2 separate regions of the Homo sapiens genome follow, and region 2 is linked to region 1. Evidence: fine-mapped expression QTL. Tissue or cell type: adrenal gland. Region 1 holds a variant in brackets; the other region holds the start of a gene. All regions are shown on one strand. Distances are from middle to middle.

Evidence for each region. PIP is the estimated chance that this variant, and not a neighbour inherited with it, causes the effect.
Region 2: it holds the start of PHF21B, and the variant in region 1 is fine-mapped to the expression of PHF21B in adrenal gland (GTEx, PIP above 0.99).

The regions. Positions count from the first base shown.
Region 1 is chr22:45,100,791-45,103,630 of GRCh38, reverse strand. No RefSeq gene overlaps it. Among named protein-coding and RNA genes, the nearest start is that of NUP50-DT, 62 kb to the left of the region's middle. The variant A/G (reference allele first, on the strand shown) is at 1,607.
Region 2 is chr22:45,008,453-45,010,952 of GRCh38, reverse strand. PHF21B (PHD finger protein 21B) reads left to right here and starts at 948. Exons shown (of 13, transcript NM_138415.5): 1 at 948-1,457; 2 at 2,343-2,408. The coding sequence starts at 1,404. RefSeq lists an enhancer at 1,968-2,500.

The sequences.
Region 1 (2,840 bases):
TTTTTTTTTTTTAGTAGAGAGACAGGGTTTCACCATGTTGGCCTGGGTGGTCTCGAACTCCTGACCTCAGGTGAGCCGACTGCCTTGGCCTTAGTCAAGGCCAGCACTTTGGGATTGCAGGTGTGAGCCACCTCGCCCAGCCAAATTTTTTTTTTTTTTTTCAGAGGCTGGGGCTGGCTTTGGCTATGCTGATGTCATGGCTCAAGTGACATCCCCAGGCCTCAGTTTCTCCATCTCTTTGCTCTGTTTTCTCATTAGCTGGCTTCATTCTCAGACAGACTTACTCTGTGCAACATGGCAGCTCCCGGCTTCCATGACCCTCGGTGCTTGAGTGCCCCAAAGGAGAGAAATTCCCTTTCCCCAAGTGTTCAGCTCTGCCAGGCTGCCATCCCCTCCCCACCCCATCGGGCACTACATCTGTGCTTTGGGGGCTGCTCAGGAGCCTGCCTGACCTGGGGGAAGCAGGGACATCCACGCCGAATTACACAGAGCAGGACAGCAGCAGGCAGCAAAGGAAAGGGGAAGGAACCCGAGCAGGGAGAAGCAACAAGTGTCAATTAATCATAGGAGGTGAGGCCAGCTTTTGCCTGCAGTCAAGGGACATGAATATTGAGACTCTAGGTCAGCAAGTGACTTGTTTTAGCTCTTACCTATAGGACAAGAACTTAAGAATCTCTTCTGCTTCTCCACTCTGTGCTCTTTTTCCTGCATCTTTTTTGAGATAGAGTCTTGCTCTGTTGCTCCCCAACCCCCATCTTTTTTGAGATAGAGTCTTGCTCTGTTGCTCAGGCTGGGGTGCAGTGGTGCAATCTCAGCTCACTGCAGTCTCGACCTCCTGGGCTCGAGCTATCTTCCCACCTCAGCCTCCTGAGTAGCTAAGACTACAGGTGCATGCCACCATTCCCAGCTAATCTAAAACAATTTTTTTTTTTTGTAGAGACAGGGATCTCACTATGTTGCCCAGGCTGTTCTTGAACTCCTGGGCTCAAGCGATCCTCCTGCCTTGGCCTCTCAAAGCATCAGAATTACAGCCACTGTCCCTGGCCCCTGCACTTTTTACTAAAATCTCTTGATGTTGTGAAGTAAGTCCCTGTCCTGATGGGACTTGGCCATGGCATTCCCTAGGCATTAATTTTGTTGCTAGAACTTGGACACATGGTCAGAGTGGAATCTTGAGACTTTTTTCTTTGTAAGATCTTATATTATTATTATTACTTGCATATTCATTGTAGAAAATTTTAGAAAATACTAAAACTCATAATCCAGTCTCTGAAAGGTAGCCACGGCCAACAGGTTGGCATATTTCTTTCTTTATACCTGGGTACGCTGGTGCTCTATGTACAATTGTGTACCTGCTTTCTAAACTAGAAAATCTCAAGCTCCTCAAGTTGGTAGCGTGATGATTGGCCTGGGACTCCTGAAGTTCCAGCCTCAGGACAGGACAGGACCTGTCCCTGGGACCATGTCCGCTAGCAAGGGGCACAGATGACTTCCCATTTCTGCCTGGCCACATGGCTCCCGATGCTTGGGCTCAGTCTGCAGATGTGATGGAGGAGGAAGGACACGTGCCTCCTTGCTCTGTCTGCTCTCCTTTTCTCTTTGCGCC[A/G]CCCGGTGGCAGATGAGCAGGACATCCACACTGTCTTTGATGGTTAGGTGCACGACCCCTGACTCCTCACCCCCCCACCTCACCCTAGAAGGATTTGTGAAGATGGTTTCTGAGTGTTCGATGGCCTTCTAGGCTGACAGCGGTGGGTCCCCGGCGATGGTTCTGGCACACCCCCAGCCCATTTACGAAATGCACGCTGTTTACTCCGCGTCTCTTGAGTGGGTCCCAGGGGACCATTTTCCTCCCTTAGGTAAGTCCAAGCTTAGAGAAGTTCAGCACACACAGATTATGCACTCAGCCGACTGAAATGATTTTCTGTTGCGATTAGAGTCAATGGTGAAAATCACACACATCACTTCGTGAAGTAAATTATTGTTCGCTTGATAGATCCTAATAGCTCTCCAGAGTTGTTAAGGCCTAAACAGTCCATGGAGAGTTTGGGGAGGTAGGAGGGTGGGAGGCAGGGGGAGACAGAGTGGGTGAGGGGGGAGGGGAGAAGGGGAGTCTCATCATTCCAGAAAGCAAGGCACGATAAGACTGGCATGCGATGCGCTCTTACTGGAACTCCAATCCTTAACTACTTCTGTACTTCATGGGCTCATAAATATCGCCGAGTCCTTTTCTGTATTTCCGTGCACAACTTTCTGTTTGGCTGATGCCCAGCTCTCTCTTTTTCTGTCAACCCGTTGTCATGCGTGTAAAACACAGAGGAAAGTGCCGGCTGTTAATGTCATCATCGTGCACAGCTGGCTCCTGCTCTGCTTCGAAGCTTAACTCAAGATCCACCTCTGGGTGATACACGACCCTCTACACCCCCTTTCCTCTGAACGCTGATGATGGTGACAGTGATGATTATGACGAAAGCAATGGTGATGGTGACGATGATGATGACAAACAATACCCATTGGCCACTGTCCGTGGGTCCAGCACCGCCTTCTTCAAGACCCTATTCTAAATCCTTTATTCATATCAATCAGTTTAATAGATGGTGTGTCAAGGGAAGCCAGCTGATGTTATCCCTGTTACACGAATCAGGAAACTGAGGCAGGAGAGGCTGAGTGACCCTCCCCGGTCAATACGGCTTGTTAGATGCAGAGTGAGGATCTGAACTCAGGCCCCCAGGCCCTCGTGGGTGAGGCTGCCTCTCCAGGGATCATAGCACTTGGTTTGGCACTTGTACCCCTGCAGGAATTATGAGCTAACTGTCTACACTGCTAAGCTGCCTCCCAGTCTC
Region 2 (2,500 bases), 93 kb after region 1:
AGCAATGTGTGACCTGTTGGCATATGTTGAAAGGGACATTTGCTGATGGTGCTTGCTTGGGTATTTTTTGTGCTGCCGGAGAGGAATCTGAAGTTAAAACGACTTAACAGCTTAAACGTTTACTTTGACATATGATTGCACCCTTTCTCCCCAGCGTGTTTCAAACGTGCCAGTTTGCTGCCAACAGGGCACCCGGCACTCCGACCTGAATGAAGATGGCAGCCCCGAGGTGGTGACAGTGACTCTGGGACATTAACCTCCTGGCTGCGCGGCTGGGGGTTCTGAAACGCGACCTCCGCAGCTGTAATTATAATTGTTTTAGGTCGCATTGACCGGGCCTGTTTACGACTCTTAACAAGAGTCTTAAAATGTCCAGTGACATCTGTTGAGAGTTTAATCGTGTAAAAAAAAATCATTAAAGGAAGAGCCAAGAGATCAATTTTCTTGCTGTTTAAACAACACGGAGGCCATCAGGCGGCGGGGGAATGTGGCGACGCGACTAATTTAATCCCCCAAGTCGCGGCGCTGGTATGGACAGGAGGGGACGGAAGAATTTAAATAAAATATCAGAGGGAGGCGGAGGAGGGGGGAAAGGAGGGAGCCGAGGACCAGGGTGAGGAGAAATGGAAACACGGACTCGCAGCCTCCCAGCGGAAAGTGTCCTGATCCCGGCGTTACACGGCGCAGGGGGTGGGGGCGCCGCGTTCCCCGGGTTGGCCCGGGGACGGAGAGGATGACTCCGCAGTCGTCCTCTCCGAGCGCCCGGCCCGAGCAGTCCCCGGAGCCGGCGACCGTGCGTCCCCGTCCACCGCCACTTTTGTTCTCCGCTCGGGGTGCCGGGCCGCGGCGGGGCGGCAGTGCGCAGGCGCGGGCGGGGCGGGGGCGGGGCGCGGCGGGCTGAGGGTCCCGGCACCGCCCCCCGCCGCCCCGGCCCGCTCCATCCGGGCACTGCCGAATTAGCATCGTGCCGAGGCACAACTTTGCCGAGGCCCAACGAGATCCAGGCGCGCGCGCCGGAGGAAATATAGTCCCTGCCCGCGGGAGGCTCGCGCGGGAGGAGGCGGCGGCGGCGGCGGCTGGGCGGGCGCGCGCGGGGCTGCGCGGGGCTCCCGGCGCCGGGGGGGCCATGCTCCGGGCCGCGCCGGCAGCCCGGGGACCCGGCGCAACTTGCCGGGCAGCCTGAGGAGTTGGGGCAGCCGAGGGCTCGGCGCCGCGGCGCCCGGAAGCCTGTCTTCCCCTTCGCCAGCCCCCTTCCCTTTCGGCCGTGGGGGAGGGGGCTCGTGTCCCCCCCAACCCAGCCCGGAGGCCGCGTCCGCCCGCGCCCGCTCTGGCCCCCGCGGAGCCGCGCAACTTCCCGGGAGCCCGGGCCAAAGTGAGCGCAAAGTGCTGCCCAAGTTGCCGGGATGGAGCTGCAGAGCCGGCCCGAGGCGCTCGCCGTGGAACTCGCGCGCCACCAGGTAGGTGGCCGGGGGCCGGGCCCGGGGCCGGGGAGTGTGTTGCGGGGTGAGGGGGTCGGGGGACCCGAGCCCAGCATCCTCTCTTCCGGGTCTCTGGGTCTTCCAGGCTGGAGCCTGCCCGGGGGCGGGGGGCGAGGGAGTGAGCACACGCGCGGACCCCCTTCTGGGCTCCCCTCCGCCTGCCCCTGGCGCTGTCCTGCACAGTTTGCGGGATCGAGGACGCGTGGGACCCGAGCCTGGAGTCTTCTCTTAAGCGATGTAGGGTCTGCATGACTGGGAGGGTGCCTGGAGGGGGCCCCTTCGTGAGCCGGTCCCGGGGAGGGGAGTGCGAATAGGCCCCCTTCCGGCCTCCCCTCGGGCCCCCGCGCCCCGGGCGAACCTGCCCGGTGTGCAGAAGTAGTTTTGGCGATCGCTGCTGGCGAGCGGCGGCGTGGCGGCCGGAGCCTGAGCGGGGCTCGGCGTGCGCGTGTGTGTGTTGGGGAGATTAGGACGCGACTTGAATATTTATGAGCTTTGCTCGACACGGACTCGCCGTGTTTACTTGGCTCTTTGTTCCTCCCCCCTCCCCCGGCACACACTCACACTCACACTCACTCGCACACGCACCCCGGCCTGCAAACTTGCACGGCTCGGGGCGCGCCGCCGGGTGGCCTCGGCCCCCGCCCCGCCCCGCGAGCTGCCCCGATGAGGCGGCAGCCACAGGTAAGCGGCCCCGCGCGGCACTGCCCGGCCGCCGCGCGTGCAGGACGCGGCCCGGGAAACTTGGGGTGCGCTGCGGCCGGCCCCGCCCGTGGGGCTCCGGGCGGGGGGTGCCGCGGCCCGCGGTGCTGGGGTGCACCTGACCCCGGGTGGCCTGCCTGAGCCCGCTCCTCCGTGTTTCCGCAGAACGGCGACCTCAAGAAGCAGCTCCACGAAAGGCAGCCGCGGATCGCCGCGCTCAGCGACAAACAAGTAAGCGATGGGATCGCGGCCCCCCCTGGGATGGGGCGGGAGGGTGGCTGGGCACTTTGGCGGCGCCCTAAAAAGTGCCAGCCTGGGCGACG